Homo sapiens: one gene and its partners. The protein of the gene in region 4 purifies or fractionates together with the protein of the main gene of each other region. This does not show direct contact. Each region holds a gene or a part of one and is shown on either strand. Other genes may lie near its edges. The genes, in order: ARG2, USP24, ARB2A and DHX34.

The links.
Region 1: the proteins of DHX34 (region 4) and ARG2 purify together in Homo sapiens (affinity purification with mass spectrometry; one large-scale study listed by BioGRID and IntAct). This does not show direct contact.
Region 2: the proteins of DHX34 (region 4) and USP24 purify together in Homo sapiens (affinity purification with mass spectrometry; one large-scale study listed by BioGRID and IntAct). This does not show direct contact.
Region 3: the proteins of DHX34 (region 4) and ARB2A purify together in Homo sapiens (affinity purification with mass spectrometry; one large-scale study listed by BioGRID and IntAct). This does not show direct contact.

What each region holds. Positions count from the first base shown.
Region 1 is NC_000014.9:67,638,054-67,645,661, reverse strand, and holds part of ARG2 (arginase-2, mitochondrial precursor), read right to left. Parts: intron 7,070-7,608; exon of another isoform or gene 5,949-7,069; intron 3,477-5,948; coding exon 3,299-3,476; intron 20-3,298; coding exon 1-19. UniProt on the Homo sapiens protein: May play a role in the regulation of extra-urea cycle arginine metabolism and also in down-regulation of nitric oxide synthesis. Extrahepatic arginase functions to regulate L-arginine bioavailability to nitric oxid synthase (NOS).
Region 2 is NC_000001.11:55,212,565-55,216,700, forward strand, and holds the start of USP24 (ubiquitin carboxyl-terminal hydrolase 24), read right to left. Parts: upstream 2,801-4,136; 5' UTR 2,550-2,800; coding exon 2,226-2,549; intron 1-2,225. UniProt on the Homo sapiens protein: Ubiquitin-specific protease that regulates cell survival in various contexts through modulating the protein stability of some of its substrates including DDB2, MCL1 or TP53.
Region 3 is NC_000005.10:94,099,669-94,107,276, reverse strand, and holds part of ARB2A (cotranscriptional regulator ARB2A isoform 1 precursor), read left to right. Parts: intron 1-7,608. UniProt on the Homo sapiens protein: Plays a role in the regulation of alternative splicing, by interacting with AGO2 and CHD7. Seems to be required for stabilizing protein-protein interactions at the chromatin-spliceosome interface. May have hydrolase activity.
Region 4 is NC_000019.10:47,353,987-47,361,594, reverse strand, and holds part of DHX34 (probable ATP-dependent RNA helicase DHX34), read right to left. Parts: intron 6,557-7,608; coding exon 6,245-6,556; intron 3,730-6,244; coding exon 3,475-3,729; intron 1,628-3,474; coding exon 1,525-1,627; intron 1-1,524. UniProt on the Homo sapiens protein: Probable ATP-binding RNA helicase required for nonsense-mediated decay (NMD) degradation of mRNA transcripts containing premature stop codons. Promotes the phosphorylation of UPF1 along with its interaction with key NMD pathway proteins UPF2 and EIF4A3.

The DNA of each region.
Region 1 (7,608 bases), on a different chromosome or scaffold from region 4:
AATGGTACCGATTGCCAGGCTGCAAAGAACAAGTATAATCTTGAAGGCCCTCTGCTTGGCAAACATGACCGATAACAAACGTCCTCAGCCAAAACAACTTATACTCTCTCCACAGTGCAAAGCCAGGGCCTAGATGGAGACTGGGTTTGGGTGAGGCAAGACCTGTAGTTGTAGTTCTCAAAAATTAATCTTGAGTGATAAAGCCCTAGAGATTCGAAGCTGGTGACTTGCTACCCTGCAGTGTGACAGATGTCACTGCTGTCCTGTCCCCAAATCCGTATAATTTTATCCATTAGCCCTGCTCAGAAAAGAACCTCAAATATTTGTTCAATGAATGAAATCAAGTTAAGCCAGACAAGATGGTGTACACCTGTAATCCTGGCTACTCAGAGGACTGAGGTGAGAGGATCACATGAGCCCAGGGGTTCAAGACCAGCCTGGGCAAAATAGTCACACCCTGTCTCCAAAAATGAAAAAAAAAAAAGAAATCTAGGTAAATGGTACAGTCTATAGGTAACGACTCACCAAAATCTGTAAGAAAAGCTCTTGGAGACATTAACAGGGTAAACCATTAAAGACCTAATTTAGACCACTGAGTAAAAAGATGTATTGCATGTTACCTTATATATATTAGCATGGCATTCAATTTTTTTTTTTTTTTTTTAAGACGGAGTCTCGCTCTGTTTCCCAGGCTGGAGTGCAGTGGCGCAATCTCAGCTCACTACAACGTCCGCCTCCTGGGTTCAAGCTATTTTCCTGCCTCAGCCTCCCGAGTAATTGGGATTACAGGCACATGCCACCATGCCTGGCTAATTTTTTGTATTTTTAGTAAAGATGGGGTTTCAACATGTTGGCCAGGCTGGTCTTGAACTCGACCTCAAGTGATCCACCTGGCTCAGCCTCCCAAAGTGCTAGGATTACAGGCGTGAGCCACTATGCCCAGCCTCAAATATAAGATCTTAAAGTGTATTTCTGTTTTTGCCTTTCCTTGTCCTTGGGCTCTGCTTACATTAGCCAACTGTTCTGTCTCAATTCTAAGAATACACCTGATGAAATAAATGTTGGAAAGCTTCCCAGTAACCAAGGAATTTGACATAGATGGGAAATGCAGCTTAAGCATCTTAGGACTGCAACCATCCTTCTTGGTCAATATAGCATGAGACAGCTATTCTAGGTGCCATGTCCCACACTGGTTGGGTCTTTTGAGGAATAGCATGGTCTAGTGAAAAGGCAGTGGATTAAGTCAGAATACTAGAGTTTTAGTCCTGGAAGAGCTGTGTGACTGAAGACAAACCATCTAATTTCTTTAGATTTCAGTTTCCTTTTCTGTGAGATAGGGATAATAATAATACTTGGCCTGTGTAAATCAGAGTTGCTTTGATGATTAAAGTAGTAATATATGTTAAACTACATAAAAGGAGCAGTGACCTAAAAATGGCTCTTCTTGAAAATGTTCAACAGCTATTCAAGTTATGCACTTATCTCTTCCTCTCTAGAATTTCAGATTGCCTAAGCTTTAACATTGAGCTGGTAAGCAGTAACATGGCTGCAATATAGATAGCCACAGGAAAAGAAAACAAGATCTGTGGTAATCACATTGATCAGTGGTCCCCAAACAGTGAGACTTGACCAGAACTCAGAACAGCAGACAGACTTAATAAATTTCCAGAGACTACACTGAGAAAGGAGGCAGGAGACTTGCCCTCTGGTTGATTTAATTGAATGGCCTAGTCATCTCAGTAGGGAACCTGGGTGTGACCGTTTTCTTCAACCTGAGTCTTTTTTTTTTTTTTTTTTTTTTTTTTTTTTACTCCCAAGGAGGAATCTACCTGCTTCTCCAGATGTAACAAAGATTTCATTTCTGTTCAGTGATCTGAAAAGCTTTCTCAGCACCTCAGGGAAAATAATCACCAGAAGAGTCACACTGGATTTGAATCCCAGCTCTATTTCCTGGTTCTAGTCCTTGGATAAGTTATATTTTCTTTCTTATTTATTTATTTTTAAGAGACCTGATCTCACTGTGTTGCCCAGACTGGCCTCAAACTCCTGGGCTCAAGCAATCCTCCCACCTTGGCCTCCTGAGTAGCTGGGCCTGCAGGCATGCACCACTGTGCCCACCTTGGATAAGTTCTTATATATCTGTCCCTACATGCTTCCAGCAGTAAATGATAAAACCATATCTACCACCTAGCATTGTTAGCAGAATTAACTGAGAATATGTATGGAGTGCTCAATACTCCTAGTACTTCAGTGCCTTCTTCCTACTGAAGACCTTCATTGCTTATTTCAAATCACATTCCCTTGTGAAATCTATTTTAGTCCAGACTGATCTCTTCCTCCTTTGAAATTCTGTAGAATTCAATATTTTTGTTTATTCCATGTATATTTATTTCATCTAGGCCTTAATATATCACAAATTTCCTGCAATCTCTAGCACTGCTGAGAAAATATCAGAACAGTGCTCAATAAAGTACATGCTGATTCAGGAGGAGACAGGATCAAAGGACTGATTGCATGAGTCACTAGGGTCCATATTGTGGAGGCAGAAAATGTATCCACAGCTGGGCACAGTGGCTCATGCCTGTAATCCCAGCACTTTGGGAGGCCTTGGCAGAAGGATCGCTTGAGCTCAGGAGTTCGAGACCAGTCTGGGCAACATGGCCAAACCCTGTCTCTACAAGAAATACAAAAATGAGCCAGGCATGGTGGCATGCACCTGTAGTCCCAGCTACTTGGGAGGCTGAGGTAGGAAGATGGCTTGAGCCTAGGAGGCAGAGGTTGCAGTGAGCTGAGATCATGCCACTGTACTCCAGCCTGGGCAACAGAGCCAGACCCTATCTCAAAAAAAAAAAAAAAAAAAAAAAAAAAGAAAATGTAGTAACATGCCAAAGGGGATTTCTAACAGGTCTATTAGCAGAAATGCTAACAAAAACTTGCACATTCAGCCTATCAATGGATCTTTCTAATTCTCCAAAGTCATAAGATAAGTCTCAAGAAAGCTTTCCAGGAGACAAGCATGTTAACACAGTGCCTAGGAACCTTGCCTAGTATACCTCTGAACTTGCTGTGTCTGAATGTACATATTCTTACTGTGCAATGTGTCATACAAAGAAAACCACAGTGCCCCTTGAGCAGCTCAGGATCTTAGACATTTAAATGCTTGCTGTTCATTTTAATATCTACCCTAAAAATTCTGTAGGGTATTTTTCTCCAGATGAAGAAACAGATAAAGAAGCTAAGTTATGAGCCCCAAGCACCATGTAATCCATCCCCTCACCACGCCTGGCTCCCAGCTTACCTGTGGTCTCCTCCCAGTGTGACACAGCTGTAGCCATCTGACACAGCTCTGCTAACCACCTCAGCCAGTTCCTGGTTGGCAAGACCCACTGAGCGTGGATTCACTATCAGGTTGTTGTAGAGATCATCTTTGGGGACTGGAGTAAAACTCAAATCTCCAAAGTCTTTTAGGTGGCAGCCTGGAAGCAAATGAGGGATGACAAGATGAATTTTCTGTGCTATCTCCAACTCTTAACTAGCCTGGGCCACAATGATAATACGTGACAAAGTACACATCATAATCATTTTGTCACAGTAAAATTTAAAATGTCAAATGATTGTGGGAAGATTATCTCGATCCTATTATGAACAGTTTTGCAGATGTTGGAAACTGAAACTAAGAGATATCGATTGACTTAACCCAACAATAAAAAAATGGTTAACCATTAGACCTCAGATATCCTGGAGTGATAGAGTAGAAATAAAATATCAAAAAGAACCAACAATCTTAAAGAAAATTAAGAACCAACAATTTTAAAGGAAATTAAGTACTATTAATTTAGCAAAAAAATACACAAAGAGAGTCTCATTTTTTTAAACTTTCTTTTTGTAGAAATGGGGTCTTGCTATGTTGCCCCAGCTGGTCTCAAACTTCTGACCTCAACTGATCCTCCCGCCTCATCCTCCCAAAGTGCTGGGATTATGGGCATGAGCCACCTGCCTGGCCAAGAAATTCACATATTATAAACTTTTATAAATAGCCAATCTGAAACATCCTAAAAGAAATATCTAATATTTATTGATTATTTACAAGATCCCAGGCATTGTTCTAGCTGCTTAACATAAATTCTTATTTAAGACTCAAAACAGTTGTGTGAGGCAACTAAAATGTGCCTATTTGGTGGATGAGGAAACTGAAGCAAAGAGAAGTAACCGCCCAAGTTACACAGCTATTAAGTGCCAGAATCAGGATCCAAATCTAGGCCATCTGGCTCCAAAGTTTGTACAGGTTGAGTACCCATTATCCAAAGGCTTGGGACCAGAAGTGTTTTAGATTTTTTATTTTTTTCAGATTTTGGAATATTTGCATTATATATATATTGAGATATCTTAGGGATGGAACTCAAGTCTAAACACAAAACTTGTGTTTCATACACACTTTATACACATAGCCTGAAGGTAATTTTATATAATATTTTAAATCATCTTGTGCATGAAACAAAGTTTGTGTGCATTAAACCATCAGAAAACAAAGGTGTCACTATCACAGCCACCCATGTGGACAATATGATTGTTTGGCATCACCATCTTCCTGACTCTGAATTTATATGCTACTGATAGGCAGTTATTTTCTTACTTTTTCACACATAAGTACTTAAAAGCAGAAAATATGACATACCATTAATACAGTGTGTTCAGGGTAACTTGTAATGTCATATTGGTGCTCAAAAAGTTTCAGATTTTGGAACATTTCCGATTTTGGATTTCTGGATTAGGGACGCTCAACCTCTATCCTTTACTATGCAGTTTGTCTCCTAAGGAATTCCTCATGAGTCCAACACTTTAAGAACTAGTGCTATATTCTCACAGCTTTGAATATTTCCCCACCTAAGTTGGATGCTACATTTAGGATGAGGACTAAATAATCTGACTGTATCAAAAAGGGATCTGAACTATCAGAGAACAGAACATTGACATAGATTATATTCTTAGGGTCCTGGTATTGGTGGGAAAGGGGCAGTAACAAGATAAGACGTGGCGTATCTTAATATTTGCAGAGATTTGTGTTAAAGGTTCGGATTAAGAGCAGCATGGACTCATCATGAATTTAAATTATAATTTTGAGCTCTACCTCTTGAACCCAAACTCAATCCAAAGCCAAAATTCTGAAGAAATATAAAAATTTGAGGAGCAGTGACCATAACAAAAAGCCATGAGGCCAACCAAGGAATTGCCACCGCAAGAGATATTGGAAACAAGACAGAAAACTTTGTCCTATTCTTTTTTTCCTCCCCAGCCCTTGTGTCACCCAGACCTATTCTTAAAGGTGAGATACACCTACAGCAAGAATTCTGTATTTATCTTTTGGTCATTACACTTTAAGAAATAGTCATATAAAAGGCCCCAACCTGGAGAAGATCCAGACAACCAGATAAAAAGGTAGCAGAGCAGGGGTAGGAGGAGAAAAATATGACAACAGGCCAAAGACATTGTGAACCAAGATAAAAATGTGAACCAAATAAAACATCTATAAAAATCTTTTATTTTTTTAAAAAAAGACAAAAAGGTTTGAGTAAAGTCATTATGGACTTCACCAAATCTCAAAATATGGAGAGGATACTTTAGACTTAAGAGAATGAAAGCTTTAATTAACCTTCAAGTCAATATCAAGTCTTTCCTCTGTCTGTTGACAACACAATCCTGGACTGCACAGACTTTTTTTTTTTTTTTTTTTTTTTTTGAGACAGGGTCTTGCGCTATCATGCAGGCTGGAGTGCAGTGGCACAATCTCGGCTCACTGCAACCTCCACTTCCTGGATTCAAGCAATTCTCCTACCTCAGCCTCCCAAGTAGCTGGGATTACAGGTGTGCGCCACCACGTCTGGTGAATTTGTTTTTGTATTTTTAGTAGAGACAGGGTTTCGCCATGTTGGCTAGGCTGGTCTCGAACTCCTGACCGCAAGTGATCCACCTGCCTCGGCCTCCCAAAGTGCTGGGATTACAGGCATGAGCCACTGCACCCAGTGTACTGTACAGATCTTGAATGGACAATTCCTGGATGTTTCTACTTTCACCTCCATGTTTATCTCAGCACTCTCCTTAAATCACATCAACCATTAGGTTCTTACTAGATGTAAGACACCAGGGTATGCCTGGTGTTTTATAATATTAGGTGTACAATTATAAAAGATTTATAATCTTTATAAATTTATATTTTGGTAATTGCACTCTAAGGAATAGTCATATAAAAGGCCCCAAACTGGAGTTAAATAATATTAACTAACGTTTCAGAACTATTTGCCAAGCACTTTCATTCAATCCTCATAGGACCAAGAAGAAATACAGGGAAATTAAAGTGCTCAATCCAGTGGATAAGTCACAGAACTTTGGGACTACCCAAGTCCAATCATGCAAACCAGGATGTAGACTCAGATAAACGTGACAGAAAACAGTACTCACTTGTATTAGAAAAAAGCTGCACAAAGCCTAAAAAGGAACCTAAAGAGAATTTGGCAATCTTACAGTAACGTTCCCAGGAAGAGAGACTGAATTTCATAGAAGGATTTCAGTCGCTAATTCAGGCCACCACTCTGCTCTCATTACAGGTGCTAGAAGGGTTACTAACTTCTGTCGGGGGTTCATCAGATTAATTCCCAACCTGGGTAGTGGATTCTGTCCACATTGTCCAACTCCATTTACTCCGATGCCATCTCACCAAACAGCATTCTGGCTATTCAGTTGGTTTCCCACATGCCTTAATATGGGCAAAAGCTTCTAGACAGTGGACACTGGAAGGACTACTGCTTAACATAATTATGCACGGGCATTTTGGTTGATCCAGCATGGTTAGCATGAGTCTGGGTCTGAAAGCCTGATGAGCTATGCACTCAGCAACCTTGTGTTTCTGCATCCACAAAGCTAAGGGCCAGCCTCCTCTAAAGGGATTTATACCTTGAGAGGCCCTGCCTGAGTGGCCTACCTTCCTGCTCCCAACTCTGTTTTTTCTTTTTTCCCCCTAGAATATTCAGGAAGAACGAACTCAACTCTATAATTTGCACAGTTTCAGTGCCAGGTAAGGACTTGGGACAATGAGTCCTAAAGGAGTCAGGGGAAGTTCACTGAGGATCAGGGGCGTCAAAGAAGAACTCCTATGACAAATAGTTTGTACTTGCACTGTTTTGTTTTGAAATTCTCTGTAAAATTGGATAACGTGTATATCAGAGGTCCCAAACCTACTGCCCGGGTTTTACTACTGTATCCTTTCAGACTTTAATCATTTTTTTTCTTTTTTTTTTGGATTATTTGTAGAGACAGGGTCTCACTGTGTTTTCCAGGCTGGTCTCCAACTCCTGGGCTCAAGTAATGCTCCCATCATGGCCTTCTAAAGTGCTAGGATTACAGATGTGAGCCACCATGCCTGGGCTAGTTATAGGCATAATACATAATATTATTTTAAGTAAGGTTATTAGAGTAAATTAACTGTCATAGCAAAATATGTTTGAGCCCAAAATATGGCTCAAACAAGTTTATTTCTTGTTTGTTTAGCATCCAGGGTAGATATTCCAGGTCAGCAGGAGGCTTTCCTTTATGCAGTAATTCAGAGACCTGGCT
Region 2 (4,136 bases), on a different chromosome or scaffold from region 4:
ATCAAGAGCCTCAGTTTCCCACTGTGTACACCAAGGATGACCAAGAAGTTCCATAGGTGGCATGCATTAAGATTATTAAACCACAGAGGCACATTCTGCGTTAAATGTTTCCAAAAGGCTCCTGTGTGTCAGGAAAGTCTCAGCCTGCCAACCTCTGCCAATACGCTTCGTGGGTAAAGCAGCCTCAGTCACCAGCTCCTCTTGAACTCTTAAAAGTAAACGGTGCAGCTTCCCTCCCCCAGGCCAAATCCACAGGTCTAGGAGAAATGAGGACTTGATGCACTGCTTCGAAAAGATGGAGATTTTATGGATTTTAATTTACCGCAAACCAAACTCCTTAGCCTGCCATTCACGTAAGAAGCCACTCCCAATTCTTTGTACTTACATGTACTGGCAGTAAGCTAAGGTTAGCGCTAATGTTAACATGAATGCACCAAGCATTGTAATTTAAATTGATTTTCCAATCACAGGAAATTAAAAGGTATGACAAAAGAAAAAAAGAATCACATTTCTCACATAATGAGGATACACTGAGCTTTGCAGAGTTATACAAACACCTTCTGAAAAAGCAACGGCTTTCTTCTTGATTTCAAAACTGGGTCAAAAACTAGAAGGAACGAGGGAGGAGTGATAGGAACTGCCAATGAGAAGCTGATTTCTTAAAATGACTTAAGTATGGTTACTCAATTATATGGGAATTTAAAAAAATTCCCAAACTAGGAATAGTAACAATCTTTATTTCCATATACTAGTCAACGATACAGCTAAGTTAGTGGGTTACAGAGGGCAATCTAGCAACTGTGTCTAAGTGTGGAAGCCAAAGAAATCTTGTGCAGAAACCTGTTCTTTTTAAGTGCCACCTTCTTGTTCAAGCTACTTCAGCCCGAGGAACTGTTGCAAAAGCATACAATTAAAAGGATATAACACTGCTCAGGAAAAAGTGTTTCAAAAGGCTTAGCTTCACTAAGCTTAATTCTTCATTAAGAACGAACCAAATTCGTATCTCTACCTAATAACGCAATCCCAATAATTTGAGATCTGTGCTTTTCTGTGGTCAGGCCAAGCTGCTCTACTGGCCCCTGAAATGAACTACCCAACGAATCTGACCAAAATTCCTGCCATGAGCTACTATGTTTCTGCAAAGTAATTATTCAAAAGCACTGCTGCTTCTGGTCGATCTTTTTTCTTTATTATAGAAGAGTCCGTTTTCTTCCCCCACGTTCCTTGCTCACACCCCAAACTAAACAGGCATAGTCTTCTCCACCTAGACTTGAGGTCTCTGATCAAAGCCATTAGCCTCAAGACTCCTCCTCCACCCCCACTGCGCTCCCACCCTGTTCCGCGCCCCTCTGCATAGCACCCTCAGTATGACTACCATCTCTTTCCCCGGTCTAATTTTCTCTCATTTCTGACCTTATCGATGACCAGTACTCCCTCTTTACCCAGACCTGGTGCCAGCTCTATCTTCCAATTCCAGTCCCCATCCCTGCCTAGACCCTCCTCAGCTCCCACCCCTGCCCAGGCCTCCCACCTCTGCCCTCTCAGTGCAATCCCCACTGCTCTCATACCTGATTTTATTCAAGTCCTCATTCCTGGCCGCGGCCCCTTCCCTCTTCATTTTAAATCCTACTCAATGCCCCCCCTTTCCGACCCTTGGCTAAAACCCCAACCTCACTCCTAACCCCAACAGTTTTCCTGTGATCCTGTCAAAGACCACTACTCTGGCCGGCCCACACCGCTTTTTCTGACTCTGAGCCTGGTGCCTCCGCCAATCCTTCACTGAAACCTCGTGCCACAAAATCTCCGACCTAGCCTAGTGCACTAGTACCCCATTTCCGACCCCCTACTGCACGCATCCTTCCCACTATATGCTCAAGTGTCTGTCCTCCCATCTCGGATGATAGCCCTGGAGCCTCCTCCCCATCGTCGGCGTGCATAGCCGGAAGCCTAAGGGACCCCTCCTCACCCCAACCCACAGCTCCGCTGCGCATCCCTAATTCCCTTTCACACGCCTCTCCTATGGGTCCCTCTCCCCACTTACCCCCAATCAAGTGACTTCGGTTCCCAACTGGAGCCTGGGGCTTCTCTCTCTCTCTCCGCCCCGCCCCCACTAAAGCCCCAGTCGAATGCCCTCTCTCCCCACACCAAGCCCAGCGGGGTGTGTCCCCTCCCAGGAACTCCAGCCCAGTGGCTTCCCACAGAGGTCTGGGGTTGCCCCTCCTCACCTCCGCGTCCACCACCTCGTGGTAGGCGGGCGGGGGGTCGAAGCCGCCCCCGCCTCCGGTGCTCCCGCCGCGGGAGGGGCCGCCGCCGCCGCCGTCACCTCCGCCGTCGCCCCGCGGGCCCCCGCCGGGCCCGGGGCTGGGGCCACCGCCGCTGTCCATGGGCTCGTAGCCGCCGTAGTCGAGGCCCGGCCGCTCGTTGGTGAGCAGTGCCACGGCCTCGTTAATGTCGTTCTTGGCCAGGCGCAGGGCCTTGCGGATGGTGGCGGGGTCTGAGAAGCCCATGCACAGCAGCGTGGTCATGTGCTGCTCCTCCTCCGATTCCATGGCTTGGGCCTCCTGGCCGCCCCGGCCAGCGCACGGCGAAGCTACGGGTCCCGGGCCTGGCGGGCCGCGCGGCGCACCCTCCGCGCCGCCTCCGCGCCCAGGTTGGCCCCTGCGTTCCTGCCCCGGGTGCTCCGCAGCAGCCGGGCCAGGCTGGGTGCGGGCTTGGGTCCTGCGAGCCGAGCTAGTGCGGTGAGGCGCTCAGGCGCGGCTGCGGCCCGGCCCAGCCCTGCGCGCCGCCATGTTGGCCTCCTCCCCCTCCGCCTCCTCCTCCCCGGGCGGCGGGGCCGCGCCTCGGCTCCCGGAAGCGGCACGGGAGGCGACCGTGCTCGCCGTTGGCAGGCTAGGGTTGGCGGCGGCGTATTCTGTTTGTTTTAAACGAAGGAGCGGAGGGAGGGGCCGCGCCGCGGAGCGTGCCTAAGGTGAAAGGGCTGCCGTGCAGCCAGGCAGAGGCGAGGAAGGCTTCTCCATCGTCGCCACCGCCCGCCTGTTTCGCCGGCAACAGGTTCCCCCGGGACGGGAGGGGCCGCAGCGCCGCGCAGCTCGCAGCGCTGAACGTCGCGGAAATCCCTTGGCCGGCCGAGCCTCCGCAGCCGCGACCCGGCTTCTCTCCGTCCGAGTCCCCCGAGCCTCTCCGAACCCCCGTTGGACTTCCCCTCCCTGGCCGGCGCCGCCCGACCCGCTCCCCCATCCTAGAGGGAATTCCCTGCGCCGCGGCTGTGAGGCACCTCCACCCCGGCCTGAAATGCACCGCAGTCCTGAAGGAAATCCACCCTCATCCCACGCAGATTCACCCGCAACGCTGCCTGAATACGCCTCGCTGCCCACAGAAATTCCTGCCCAAACCAGACGCGTGGACCACCCAAGACGAAATTCACACTCGACCCTAGCCCCGCCAGCCCTTGCCGAAATCACCCTAAACCCGTTGAAATTAATTCCCAGCTGTCCGAATTTTCCTTCCAACATTAACTGACTACCTGTCTCCGCCAAGCTGACTGAACTCTACCGAACTCTTACCCTGAAAGCCCCTGAGAGTCCAAAATATATTTTTCCAGCCCGAAATCTAAATCCCAGTTCTCTGTATGAAAACCTCCAGAAACCCAGACTCTTACTTCCTTCGGCCACGGACTCGTTCGAACATCGTGGACATCACCTTCCCACATTTTTACCGCAGTCTTTGGCTCCGATTCTTTGTCCCTGCCTCTTGGGCAGCATCCTATCCCTGTTTCTTTCCACCTTTGAGGATTCCTCTACCTCTTTAAAGGCCTGCTTTCTTTGCTTTCTCTTCTCACCTTTGGCATTGGCACACTGGGGTCATATCTTTAGTTCCCTTGACTCCACCATCTAAGCCAAGGGTGTCCAATCTTTTGGCTTCCCTGGGCTACATTGGAAGGAGAAAAATTGTCTTGGACCACATATAAAATATTCTAACGCTAATGGTAGCTGATGAAACTTTTAAAAAATCTCATCATGTTTTAAGAAGTTTACGAATTTGTGCTGAGCCGCATTCAAAGCCGTCCTGGGCCTAAGTCCTTGCTATTTTTCCTCTTCAATTTCCTTCAATCCATAGTTCTCTAGGTTATTTTCCCA
Region 3 (7,608 bases), on a different chromosome or scaffold from region 4:
CTGCTTTCTCTAATATTGTTTGTTGTCTCCATTTGGAGGAAATGATCTCTTTTGTAATATACGTAATTGAGATAATTTTTGCTTCAGAGAAAATAACACTGTGAAGACCATCAAAGCAAAGCATTTCTTCATATCAGATTATTTATGTTTTACTTGGAAATTGCTAAAGGAGTAGTTTTTATTTCATTTTTAAACTTTTATTCCTTTCCAACTTTTATTTTAGTTCAGGGGGTACATGTGCAGTGACCCGATAGGTAGTTTTTCAATTCTCATCCTCTTCCCAACCTCCACCCTGAAGTAGACCCCATTGTGTATTGTTTCCTTCTTTCTCCATGTATACTTAATGTTTAGCTTTCATGTATAAGTGAGAACATGTGGTATTTGTTTTTTTTTTTTTTTTTTTTTTCTGCATTGATTCACATAGGATAATGTGAAGCTCCATCCATGTTGCTGTAAAGGACATGATTTTATTCTTTTTTATGGCTGTGTGGTGTTCCGTGGTGTATATGTGCCACATTTTCTTTGTTCAGTCCACTGTTGATGGGTATGTAGGTTGATTCCATGTCTTTGCTTTTTTGAATAGTGCTGCGATGGACATATGAGTACATGTTGTCTTTTTATTAGAATGATTTATATTCCTTTGGGTAGGTACCCAGGAATGGGATTGCTGAGTTGAATGGCAGTTCTTTCTGTTTTAGGTTCTTTAGAAATTTCCAAACTGCTTTCCACAGTGGCTGAAATTTACATTCCCCCCACCACTGTATAAGCATTCAGTTTTCTCCACAACCTCATCAGCAGCTGTTATTTTTTGACTTTTTAACAATAGCCCTTCCAACTGTTGTGAGATGGTTCTTATTTTGGTTTTGATTTGCATTTCTCTAAAGCTCAGTGATGTTGAGCATTTTTTCATATGTTTGTTGTCCATGTGTATATCTTGTTTTGAGAATTGTCTGTTCATGTCCTTTGCCCATTTTTTATGGGTTTTTTTGCTTTTTAATTTGTTTAAGTTCCTTATAGATCCTGGCTATGGGACCTTTGTAGGATGCATAGTTTGCGAATTTTTTTCTCCCATTCTGTAGGTTGTCTGTTTACTGTGTTGATAGTTTCTTTTGCTGTGTAGAGGCTCTTTAGTTTAATTAGGTCTTTCTTTTCAATTTTTGTTTTTGTTGCAGTTGCTTTTGGAGTCTTCATATGAAATCTTTGCCAGGGCCTAGATTCAGAATGGTATTGCCTAGATTTTCTTTTAGAGTTTTTATAGTTTAAGGCTTTACATGTAAGTCTTTAATCCATCTTGAATGGATTTTTGTGTATGGTAAAAGGAAAGGGTTCAGTTTCAATCTTCTGCATATGGCTAGGCAGTTATCCCAGCACTCTTTATTGAATAGGGAGTCCTTTTCCCATTACTTATTGTTGACTTTGTTAAAGATCAGATGGTTTTAGGTGTGTGGCTTTATTTTTGGGTTCTCTATTCTGTTCCATTGTTTTATGTGTCTGTTTTTTTTTTTTTTCCAGTACCATGCTGTTTTGGTTACTGTAGCCTGGTAGTATAGTTTGAAGTCAGATAGTGTGATACCTCTGGCTTTTTTCTTTTTGCTTAGGATGGTTTTGGGTATTCAGGCTATTTTTCAGTTCCATATGAATGTTAGATATTTTTTCTAGTTCTGTGAAAAATGTCATTGGTAGCTTGATAGGAGTAGCATTGAATCTGTAAATTACTTTGAGCAGCATGGCCATTTAAATAATATTGATTCTTCCTATCCATGAGTAAGGAATATCTTTCCATTTGTGTTGTTTCCGATTTCTTCAGCAACATTTTGTAATTCTCATCGTAGAGCTCTTTCACCTCCCTGTTGAGCTGTATGCCTAGGTATTTTATTTCTTTTGTGGCTATTGTGAATGGGATTGCATTCTTGATTTGGCTCTCAGCTTGGACGTTATTGCTGAAATGCTACTGATTTTTTTGACATTGATTTAGTATCCTGAAACTTTGCAGAAGTTGTTTATCAGATCTAGGAACCATTGGGTAGAGAGCATGGGGTTTTATAAGTGTAGAATCATATCATCTGTGAACAGAGATAGTATGACTTCCTTTTAATTTGGATGCCTTTCATTTGTTTCTCTTGCCTAATTGCTTTGGCTGAAATTTCCAGTACTATGTTGAATAGTTGTGGTGAGAGTGGGCATGCTTGTCTTGTTCCGGTTTTCAAGGGAAATGTCTCTAGCTTTTGCCTATTTAGTATGATGTTTGCTGTGGATTTGTCATAACTGGCTCTTTTTATTTAAGGTATGTTCCTTCAATGTCTAGTTTGTTGAAAATTTTTAACACATGTTAAATTTTATCAAAAGCCTTTTCTGCACCTATTGAGATGATCATATGGTTTTTGTTTTTAGGTTTGTTTATGTGTTGAATCACATTTACTGATTTACATATGTTGACCCAACCTTGTATAACAGGAATAAAGCCATTTTGATCATGGTAGATTAGGTTTTTGATGTGCTGCTGGTTTTGGTGTGCTAGTGTTTGTTGAGGATTTTTACATCTATATTCATCAGGGATATTGGTCTAAAGTTTTCTTTTTTCGTTGTGTTTCTACAAAGTTATGGTATCAGAATGATGCTAGCTTCATAGAATGATTTGACGAGGAGTCCCTTCTCATTTTTTGGAATAGTTTAGTAGGGTTGGTTTCAGCTCTTCTTTATATGTTGGGTGGAATTTGGCTGTCAATCTATCTTTTCCAGGACTTCTTCTGGGTGTAGGCTTTTTATTACTGATCAATTTTGAAATTCACTATTGGTCTGTTCAGGGTTTCAATTTCCTTCTGATTCAATCTTGGGAGGTTGTATGTTTTGAGGAACTTATCCATTTTTCTCTAAGATTTCTAGTTTGTGTAGGTAGAGGTGTTCCTAATAGTCTCTGAGAGTTTTTTTTTTTTATTTCTGTGGGGTCAGTTGTAATGTTCACTTTGTCATTTCTGATTGTGTTTATTTGGACTTCTTTCCTTTTTTCTTTATTTGTCTAGCTAGTGGTCTGTCAATCTTATTTATTCTTTCAGAGAACGACGTTTTGGTTTCATTGACCTTTTGTATAGTTTTTCATGTCTTAGTTTTGTTCAGTCAGCTCTGATTTTGGTTTTTTCTTCTGCTAGCTTTGGGGTTAGTTTACTTTTTTTTTTTTTGGTTGCTCTAGGTGTGATTTTAGGTTGTTAATTTGAGATCTTTCTAACTACTTGATGTAGGTGTTTAGTGCTATATACTTTCCTTTGAAGACTGCTTTAGCTCTGTCTCAGAGAATCTGGTATGTCATTTCTTCCTTTTCATTAGTTTCAAAAAATTTATTGAATTCTGTCTTAATTTCATTGTTTACCCAAAGTCATTCAGGAACAGATTGTTTAATTTCCACATAATTATATGATTTTGAGAGATCTATTCTTGTACTGTGGTTAAGAATGTGGTATAATTTCAGTTTTTTTTTTTTTTTTTTGAATCTGTTGAGAATTCCTTTATGGCTGAGTGTGTGGTCAATATTACAGTATGTGTCATGTGCAGATAAGAAGAATGTATATTCTGTTGTAGTTGAGTGCAGTGTTCTGTAGATATCTGTTAGGGCCATTTGGTCAAATGTCAAGTTTAGGTCCTGAATATCTTTGTTAGTTTTGTGCCTTGATGGTCTGTCTAGTACTGTCAGTGGGTGTCAAGGTGAGGTCTTCCACTATTATCGTGTGGTTATCTAAGTCTCTTTGTAGGTCTCTAAGAACTTATTTTATGAATCTGGGTGCTCCAATGTTGGATGCATGTATATTTAGGGTAGTTAAAGTTTTCATGTTGAATTGAACCCTTTATCATTATTTAATGCCCTTCTTAGTCCTTTTTGATTATTGTTGCTTTCAAGTCTGTTTTGTCTCAAATTAAAAGAGCAATCTGTCTCTTTTTTGTTTTCTGTTTGCTTGATAGATTTTTCTCTATCCCTTACTCTGAGTCTGTGGGTGTCATTGCATGTGAGAGGGGTCTGTTGAAGATAGTATGTAGTTAGGTCATGTTTCTTTATTCAAATTGCCACTCTGTGTCTCTTAAGTGGTGTAGTTAGTCCATTTACATTCAGAGTCAGTATTGATATGTGAACATTTGATCCTGTTATGCTGTTATCTGCTTGTTATGTAGACTTAATTTTGTAGTTGCTTTATGGTGTCAATGGTCTGTGTACTTAAGTGTGTTTGTTTTTGTGGTGGCCAGTAATGGCCTTTCAATTTCATATTTAGTGCTTCCGTAAGGACCTCTTATAAGGCAGGTCTGGTGGTAGTGAATTCCCTTAGTATTTGCTTATCTGAAAAGGATTTTATTTCTCTTTTACTTATGAAGCAAAGTTTGGCTAGATATGAAATTCTTGGTTAGAATTTCCTTTCTTTAAGAATGCTGAATAAAGGTCCCCAGTCTTTTCTGGCTTGTAGGGTTTCTGCTGAAAGGTCAGCTGTTAGCCTGATGGGGTTCCCTTTGTAGGTGACCTCTCCCTTCTTTTTAGCTCCCTTTAAGATTTTTTCTTTCACTTTGACCATGGAGAATCTGAAGACTATTTGTCTTCAGCATGGTTGTCTTGAATAGCATCTTACAGGGGTTCTCTGCAGTTTCTGAATTTGAATGTCTACCTCCCCAGTGAGGTTAGGGAAATTTTCATAATTTTTAATTATGTTTTCTAAGTTGCTTTCTCATGTCTCTCTCTTTCAGGGATGCCAATGTGTCATATGTTTGGTCTGTTTACATAATCCCATGTTTTTTGGAGATTTTGTTCATTCTTTTTATTCGTTTGCCTTTATTTTTGTCTGATTGAGTTCATTCGAAGAATTGGTCTTTGAACTTTGAGATTCTTTCCTCAGTTTTGTCTATTCTTTTCTCAGCACTTCTGATTGTATTATGAAATTCTTTTAGTTTTTCATCTCTATCAGATCAGTTTGGTTCCTTCTTAAAATGACTATTTCATCTTTAAGTTCTTGTATTATTTTATTGGATTCCTTAGATTCCTTGGATTGGGTTTCAGCTTTCTCCTGAATCTTGATGATTCTCCTTGCCATCCAGATTCTGAATTCTATGTCTATAATTTCAGCCTGGTTAAGAACCATTCTTTGGCAGGTGGTGCAGTCATTTGGAGGTAGGAAGACACTCTGACTTTTTTTTTTTTTTTTTACTTTGGAATTATTAATATTATTTCCTATGATATAACATAGTTAAAGCTAATTTTCAGGAGGAAAGTTTCATTTTGTAATTATTCATTATTTACACTATGACGGGGAGGGCTTTAGTATTCTTTTTTTTTTCCTGGTTATTCCTTTTTTTAAAAAATTATTTTAGGTTTGGGGATACGTGTGTAGGTTTGCTACATAGATAACATGTGTCACAGGGTTTGTTGTACATATTACTACATCACCCAGGTATCAAGCTCAGTACCCAATAGTCATCTTTTCTGCTAATTGCCCTCCTCCTCACCTCCCTCTCTTAAGTAGACCCCAGTGTCTGTTGTTCCTTTCTTTATGTTCATGAGTTCTCATCATTTGGCTCCCACTTACAAGTGAGAACATGCAGTCAGTATTTGTTTTTCAGTTACTGTGTTAGTTTGCTAAGGATGATAGCCTTCAGCTTCATCCATGTTCCCGCAGAAGACATTATCTCATTTTTTTATGACTGTGTAATATTCCATGGTGTGTATTTACCACATTTTCTTTATCCAGTCTGTCATTGATGGGCATTTAGGTTGATTCCATATCTTTACTGTTGTGAACAGTACTGCAGTGAACATTCACGTGCTTGTGTCATTATGGTAGATAGTCTTCCTCTGAGTGTATACCCGGTGATGGTATTGCAGCGTCAAATGGTAGCCCTGCTTTTAGTTCTTTGAGGAAACGCTATACTGCTTTCCACAATGGTAGAACAGATTTACACTCCTACCGACAATGTATCAGGGTCTCCACAACTTCGCAGGCATCTGTTATTTTTTGACTTTTTAATAATAGCCATTCTGACTGGTGTGAGATGGTATCTCATTGTGGTTTTGATTTGCATTTCTCTAATGATCAGTGATATTGAGCTTTTTTTCATATGCTTCTTGGCCACATGTATGTCTTTTAAGAAGTATCTGTTCATGTCTTTTGTTTACTTTTTAATAGGGTTGTTTGTTTTTCTCTTAGAACATTGTTTAAGTTCCTTGTGGATGCTGGACTTTCTCCTGAATCTCCATTTTTGCCAACTATGCATCTGATTAAGACAGATTTTTTTTCCCATTCTGTAGGTTGTCTGTTTACTCTGTTGATAGTTTCTTTTGCTGTGCAGAAGCTCTTAAGTTTAATTAGATCCCATTTGTCCGTTTTTGCTTTTGTTGCGATTGCTTTTGGTATCTTTGTCAGGAATTCTTTGCCCGTTCCTAGGTCCAGGATGGTATTGCCTAGGTTGTTTTCCAGGGGTTTTATAGTTTTGGGTTTTACATTTAAATCTGTAATCCATTTGAGTTTATTCTTGTATATGGTATAAGGAAGGGGTCCAGATTCAGTCTTCTGCATATGGCTTGCCAGTTATCTCAGCACCATTTTTTGAATAGGGAGTCTTTTCCCCTTGGCTTGTTTTTGTCAGCTTTGTCAAAGATTAGATGGTCGTAGATGTGTGGCCTTATTTGTGGTCTCTGTATTCTGTTCTATTGGTCTATATGCTGGTTTTTGTACTCGTACTATGGTGTTTTGGTCCCTGTAGCCTTGTAGTATGGTTTGAGGTCGGGTAACATGATACCTCCAGCTTTGTTCTTTTTGCTTAGCGTTGTGTTGGCTATTTGAGCTCTTTTTTGGTTCCATAAAATTTTAAAATAATTTTTTCTAGTTCTGTGAAGAATGCCTTTGGTAGTTTGATAGGAATAGCATTGAATCTATAGATTGCTTTGGGCGGTATAGCCATTTTAATGATGTTGATTCTTCCTTTCCACCAGCATGGGATGTTTTTCCATTTATTTGCGTGTCATCTCTGATTTCTTTCAGCAGTGTTTTGTAACTCTCATTGTAGAGCTCTTTCACCTCCCTGATTAACTGCATTCCTAGGTATTTGTGTGTGTGTGGCAGTTTTGAATGGGATGGCCATTTTGATTTGGCTCTCAGTTTGGTTGTTGTCGGTCTGTAGGAATGCTAGTGATTTTTGTACATTGATTTTGTATGCTGCAACTTTGCTGAAGTTGTTTATCAGCTGAAGGAGCTTTTGGGCTCAGACCATGGGGTTTTCTAGATATAGAATCATGTCATCTGCAAATAGGTAATTTGACTTCCTCTCTTCCTATTTGGATGCCCTTTATTTCTTCCTCTTGCCTAATTGCTCTGGCTAGGACTTCCAATACTATGTTGAATAGATGTGGTGAGAGAGGGCATCCTTGTCTTGTGCCGGTTTTCAGGGGAATGCTTCCAGCTTTTGCCCATTCCATGTAATGTTGGCTGCGGGTTTCTCATAGATATCTCTTATTTTGAGGTATGTTCCTTCAATACCTAGTTTATTGAGAATTTTTAACGTGATGGCATGATGAATTTTATCAAAAGCCTATTCAGATTATCATATGGCTTTTGTCTTTAGTTCTGTTTATGTGATGAATCA
Region 4 (7,608 bases):
GTTGGCCAGGCTGGTCTTGAACTCCTGACTTCAGGTGATCCACCTGCCTCAGCCTCCCAAAGTGCTGGGATTACAGGCATGAGCCACAGCACCTGGCAGACATTATTTTTTTAATTTCTCTCTCTCTCTTTTTTTTTTAAACAGGGTCTCGCTCTGTTGCCCAGGCTTGAGTGCAGTGGCACAATCACAGGTCACTGCAGCCTCGATTTCCTGGGCTCAGGTGATTCTCCCACTTCAGCCTCCTGAGCAGCTGGGACTACAAGCACGCACTACCATGCCTGGCTAATTTTTGTATTTTTAGTAGGGGCGGAGTTTCACCATGTTGTCCAGGCTGGTCTCAAACTCCTAACTTCAAGTGACCTGCCTGCCTTGGCCTCCCAAAGTGCTGGTATTACATGTGTGAGCCACCGCGCCCAGCCGGGACGGCCTGCCATTGTCATTTTTCAGATGAGCCAACCGATACATGAAGTGTCAGTCACATGACCCCAGCCACACAGCCAGCACTAAACCTGGCCAGGCAGGCTCCAGTGTCTCCAAACACTATGCTATGCTGACTTCCCAGAGAACATTCCAGTCAGGAAGACAGAAAGTGAGCAAACAGAGCAGCACATAAAATAGAATGTCGGGCTGGGCGTGGTGGCTCATGCCCGTAATCCCAGCACTTTGGGAGGCTGAGGCAGGCAGCACTTGAGGTCAGGAGTTCGAGACCAGCCTGGCCAACATGGTGAAACCCCATCTCTCCTAAACATACAAAAATTAGCCGGGCGTGGTGATGCATGTCTGTAATCCCAGCTACTTGGGAGGCTGAAGCAGGAGAATCACTTGAACCCGGGAGGCGGAGCTTGCACCATTGCACTCCAGTCTGGCAACAGAGCAAGACTCCGTCTCAAAACAACAACAACAACAACAACAACAACAACAACAAACAGAATGTCAATCCCCCTCATATGACAAGCAACAGCGGATGGAGGAGGGGATATCTCTTAGACAGAGTGGACAGTATGGGCCTCTCTGACGGGTGGACATTTATGCGGGCCCTGAAATGAGGTGAGGGCGTCACCTGTGTGGATACCTGGAGAAAGACAGCTCTCGGCAGAGAGAACAGTACAAAGGCCCCAGGGCAGAAGCAGGCTTGGAAGGTGTGAGAAAAACTAAGATGTTGCCATTGGTCCATGGCCCCACACATCGTCTTCCAGCATCCCAATTCTGGAAATCCAAAGTCTGAAATGCTCGAAAATCTGAAATGTTTTCAGCACTAACGTGACCCTCCAATGAAATGCTCACTGGAGGATTTCAGATTTCTGGATTTGACATACTCAAATAATAAAATTGATACAAATATTCCAAATTCAAAAAAACCCGAAATTCCAAACACTTCTGGTTGCAAGCAAGCATTTTGGATATGGGAAAGTCAACTGTACTTCCCAATCCAAGCTGGTGCGCCCCTGCCACACACGCACACCTCCGGACCCCATGCTCCTAAGTCCTTGGGGGTGGTGGGTAGGGGCTCATGGTGGTCCTTACCGGAATCTACTACGAAGCGGATCCCGTCAATGGTGACTGAGGTCTCAGCAATGTTGGTGGAGAGGATGCATTTCCGGACTCCAGGGGGTGCCACATCAAATACCTGGGAGGAAGGGAGGGGGTGGTGTCAGGAACTAACTCAGCCCCGACTAACCTATGTGTCCAATTTCTTGCCCACCCCCGTGTCAGCAGCTTCCCTGGAACCCTTTCCTCCTTCAGAGACCTCCCTTTTGGAGATGGCTCACCGTCCACCCCATCACCTGGGCCATCCTGGGCCCTCCCCCACCCTCAGACGGAGTCTTGCTCTGTCGCCCAGGCTGGAGTGCAGTGGCGTGATCTCGGCTCACTGCAACCTCTGCCTCCCGGGTTCAAGCAATTATCTTGCCTCAGCCTCCCGAGCAGCTGGGATTACAGGTGCCCGCCACCATGCCCGGCTAATTTTTGTATTTTAAGTAGAGACGGGGTCTCACCATGTCGGCCAGGCTGGTCTTGAACTCTTGACCTCAGGTGATCCGCCTGCCTTGGCCTCCCAATGTGCTGGGATTACAGGCATGAGCCACCACACCTGCTCCCCCGACCTGAACATCTTGAACTTTTTTTTTTTTTTTTGAGACAGGATCCCACTCTGTGGCCTACAATGGAGTGCAGTGGCGTGATCACAGCTCACTGCAGCCCTGACCTCCTGAGCTCATGCGATCCTCCTGCATCAGCCTCCCAAGTAGCTGGGATTATAGGCACATGCCACCATGCCCAGCTAGTTTTCTTCCGTTTTGTAGAGACAAGGTCTCACTGTGTTGCCTAGGATGGTCTCTAACTCCTGAGCTCGAGTGATCCTCCTGTCTCAGCTTCCTGTGCTGGGATTATAGGCATGAGCCAATGTACCAGGCCATCTGGAACTTTTCTTGAAATCCTTCCCTCCTCCGACAGCCCAGCCCCTGCCCTGGTCCAGGCCTCTCCTCGCCCACTCTGATCCTACTCCAGCTTCCCCTCAGATCTCTGGCCTGTAGACTCACATGGCAGCCAGAGGGATCTGCTGAAGCATAAACTGGCACTGCCCCCACTAGGGGAGGATCGCTTGAGCTCAGGAGTTTGAAACCAGCCTGCGCAACACAGTGAGACCTCTTTGCTACTAAAATTCAAAAAAAAATTAACGGAGGCCGGACACAGTGGCTCACACCTGTAACCCCAGCACTTTGGGAGGCTGAGGCAGGCAGATCACTTGAGGTCAGGAGTTCGAGACCAGCCTGGCCAACATGGCGAAACCCCGTCTCTACTCAATATACAAAAGATTAGCCGGACGTGGTGGCGGGTGCCTGTAGTCCCAGCTACTCAGGAGGCTGAGGCAGGAGAATCGCTTGAACCCGGGAGGTGGAGATTGCAGTAAGCCACGATCATGCCACTGCACTCCAGCCTGGACGACAGAGTGAGACTCTGTCCCAAAAAGAAAAAAAAATTAATGGAGTTTAGTGACACACACCTATAGTTGCTACTTGGGAGACTAAGGAGAGAGGATCACTTGAGCCCAAGAAGTCAAGGCTGCAGTGAGCCCTGATCGTGCCACTGCACTCCAGCCTGGACAACAGAGCAAGACCCTGTTTCAAAAAAAAAAAAAAACTGTTTTGGAACACAGCCTCACCCACTCAGTTTATGGCTGCTTTCATGCTGCAACAGTGGGGCTGAGTAGCTGTGACAGACAGAGAGCCCATGGTCGATAGGACTGACATCATCTACTCCGACCCTTTATAGAAAGTTTGCCGACCTCTGGTTTAGAGCATGGGCTCCGGGGCCAGACTACCTGGGTTCGCAGCCTGGCTCTGCCACTAGGTGGCTACGACTTTGCACAAGTACAGCCCCCGAGCCCTGTGTTTGTGGAGTTACACAAGTCCTGTGCGCAGCCACCCCTGACTCATGCAGACCCCCCGCCTGCCCCACTCGGGCTTCCTGTGATACCTTGTCCTGGTCGGCCACAGACAGGGCGCTGTGCAGTGGCAGTACCACCCAGCGCTGGGTGTGGCTGGCATAGGTCTGGGCAGCCTCCAGCACGGCGCTGATCTCCGCCATGCCGCTGAGGAAGACGAGGAGGTCACCCCGCTCCTCAGGCGGGTACTTGTGGTCAATGGACTCCAGCACCCTCAGGAAAGGCCGCGGGTCCAGCTTCTCTGACTTGGACGTGGTCGGCTCCGCCTCCTGCGGCTGGTACACAACCTGAGAGGAGACAGCCCCAGGTAGAAGCACACCCTGTCCCTCCAGCTCAGAGCAATGGGCTGGGGAGGCTGCAGGCTGACGGGGGAGACCACAGGCTAACGGAGAAGACACAGTGCAACGGGTCCAGGCTGGTGGGCAACTCTGTTCCATGTGGTCATTCAGGGATCCAGGCTTCTCCTTTCTCATTATGCCACCATCTCATTGGGCAGGATTTCTCAAAGTCAGCAAGATTGACATTTCAGTCTGGATAATTCCTTGTCGTGGGGGCTGTCCTGTGCATCGTAGGATATCTAGCAGCATCCCTGGCCCTACCCACTAGATGCTAGTAGTCTTCTCCACTGCTTGTGACTATTAAAAATGTCTCCAGACATTGCCATATGTTCCCTCTGGGGCAAAACCACCCCTAATTGAGAAACAGTCAGGTGACAGACAGCACACTCCAGCTAGATAATTTCTGAAGGATGTAATAAAAAGACAAAGTAACAAAGCAACTGCAAGGCTTGTGGGGTGCTGGCAATGTTTGACTTTTCTAAACCTGGGTGCTAGCTACACAGATGTATGTAACTGGTGAAAACTAATTAAGCTATATACTTACAATGCATGCATTATCTTATGTTTAGAGTAGCTTCAACAAGAAAAATATTCTAGGTGATGAAACCAGGATTAAAAACCTAGAAATCAGGTTGGTTGGCTGACCAGGAGAGGACCCTGAGCCTGAGCCAGGTTGGTTGGCTGATTTCCCAGCATAGTTGGCTCACACCTGTAATCCTAGCTCTTTGGGAGGCCAAGGCGGGAGGATTGCTTGAGCTCAGGTATGCGTGACCAGGCAGACAACATAGCAACACGTCGTCTCTACTAAAAAAAACAAAAAACAAAAAACAAAAACCCTAGAAAACATTTCTCAGGAAGCAGCCTCATTCTTTTTGAGACAGGGTCTCGCTCTGTCACCCAGTGGCATGATCTCGGCTCACTGCAGCCTCCACCTCCCAGGTTCAAGCAATTCTCCCACCTCAGCCTCCTGAGTAACTGGGATAACAGGGGCGCACCACCACTCGAGCTAATTTTTGCATTTTTAGTAGAGACGGGGTTTTACCTTGTTGGCCAGGCTGGTCTCGAACTCCTGACCTTAGGTGATCCACCCGCCTCGGCCTCCTAAAGTGCTGGGATTATAGGCATGAGCCACCACACTCGGCTCGCACTCTCTCTCTCTCTTTCTTTTCTTTCTTTTTTTTTTTTTTGAGATGGGATCTTGCTCTGTTCCCAGGGTGGAGTGCAGTGGAGCCATCTTGGCTCACTGCAACCTCGACCTCCGGGTTCAAGCAATTCTCCTGCCTCAGCCTTCCAAGTAGCTGGGATTACAGGCGTGCGTCACCATGCCCAGCTAATTTTTGTATTTTTAGTGGAGATGGGATTTCACCATGTTGGCCAGGATGGTCTTGGGCTCCTGACCTCGTGATCTTTCTGCCTTAGCCTCCCAAAGTGCTGGGATTACAGGCACCAGCCACCGTGCCCGACCCATTCTTTCTTTTTTTATGGCTGCTTAGAAGGCAAATTGATGGGCATCCGGAACCAGAAATCACAAGAGACAATGAAGTTCTTCCTGTAAGTCTTGACTATACAGACAAGGATAACTCACTAGGACAGTGTTTCTCAATTAGGGGTGGTTTTGCCCCAGAGGGAACATATGGCAATGTCTGGAGACATTTTTAATAGTCACAACCAGAGGAGAAGACTACTAGCATCTAGTGGGTAGGGCCAGGGATGCTGCTAGATATCCTACAATGCACAGGACAGCCCCCACGACAAGGAATTATCCAGACTGAAATGTCAATCTTGCTGACTTTGAGAAATCCTGCCCAGTGAGATGGCAGAGTAATGACAAAGGAGGAGCCCGGATCCCTGAATGACCACATGGAACAGAGTTGCCCAACAGCCTGGACCAGCCACACTGTTATATGAGAGAAATAAACTTCTCTTATTTGAGACTTTACATTTTTGGGTCTTTTTTTTTTTTGAGACAAAGTCTCACTCTGTCACCTAGGCTGGAGTGCAGTGGCGCGATCTCGGCTCACTGCAAGCTCCGCCTCCCAGGTTCACGCCACTCTCCTGCCTCAGCCTCCCGAGTAGCTGGGACTACAGGCACCCACCACCATGCCTGGGTAATTTTGTTTTTGTGTTTTTAGTAGAGATGGGGTTTCACCATGTTAGCCAGGATGGTCTCAATCTCCTGACCTCGTGATCCACCCACCTCGGCCTCCCAAAGTGCTGGGATTACAGGCATGAGCCACGGCGCCCAGCCATTTTTGGGTCTTCTTGTAACAGCTTTTACTCTAACAAGCACTTAGCACTCTAACCAGCTGATTATGAATGCTCAGAAAATGGTAGCTTTAAAAAAAGAGAACATCTTTAAATGAAAGAGATGGGAGATACAGCAGCAGAGAGAAGAGGCATGTCCAGGTTTGGACAGAGACCAGGTTGGAGGTCTGGGGATGTGGGAGGAGGGGGAAGTACTCACCGTGATGGGGAACAGCCTCCCAGGCACCTGTACCACAGGGGCATTGCTGAAATAGCTGGAGAAGAGCGAGATGTTGATGGTGGCCGACATGAGGATGACCTTGAGGTCAGGCCGCGTGGGCAACAGGCGCTGGAGGACGCCCAGGAGGAAATCGTTGTGGAGATGCCGCTCATGGACTTCATCCACAATCAGGACCTCATACTGGGGCAGGCTGGGTTCCCGCTGGATTTGTCGCAGGAGCAGCCCCACTGTCAGGAATACAATCTTGGTGGCCGCCGAACGTGTGCTCTCAAAGCGGATCTGGTAGCCGACCTGGGGTGGGAGAAAGAAAGGATCAGGAGAGGACCCTGAGCCTGGGTACCAGCCCCTGGCCCTGCCCAAATTGAAAATCTAAGCAGGCCGGGTGCGGTGGCTCACGCCTGTAATCCCAGCACTTTGGGAGGCAGAGGCGGGCGGATCACCTGAGGTAGGGAGTTCGAGATCCGCCTGACTAACATAGAGAAACCCCATCTCTACTAAAAATACAAACAAAATTAGCCGGGCGTGGTGGCGCATGCCTGTAATCCCAGCTACTTGGGAGGCTGAGGCAGGAGAATCACCTAAACCCGGGAGGCGGAGGTTGCAGTGAGCCAAGATCGCACCATTGCACTCCAGCCTGGGCAACAAGAGTGAAACTCCATCTCAAAAAAAAGAAAAAGCAAAAAGAAAATCTAAGCAAATACCATGCCTACCCATCAGACTCTGGAGTCCAACAGCTTGGGTTTGAATCTCACCTCTGCCACTTAGTGCCAACTGACCTTGGGCAGGCAATGCCATCCCTTATAGTTCTCCTCCTAGATGCTGTGAGAATTCCATGTGACAATGCACAGAAAGTATCTAGCACTGTGCCTCATGTATATATAATATTAACTATATAGCAATAACCTTTTCTTGAGTCCCTGCTATGTGCCAGGACATTATATGCCACTCTAAGTGCTTTATGTATATCAACCCATTTCATCCTCATGACCACCATGAGACAGAAGGACTATTATTGGCCTTCCAAGATGGCAGTTTGCATTGCAGTGATCGTCAAGAATTACCCTCGCAGCCCAACGTGGTGGCTCACACCTGTAATCCCAAAACTTTGGGAGGCCGAAGTGGGTGGATCACCTGAGGTCAGGAGTTTGAGCCCAGCCTGACCAACATGGTGAAACCCCGTCTCTACTAAAATTACAAAAATTAGCTGGGCATGGTGGCGGGTGCCTGTAATCCCAGCTACTCAGGAGGCTGAGGCAGGAGAATTGCTTGAACCCGGGAGGCAGAGGTTGCAGTCAGCCAAGATCGCACCAATGCACTCCAGCCTGGGCCACAGAGTGAGACTC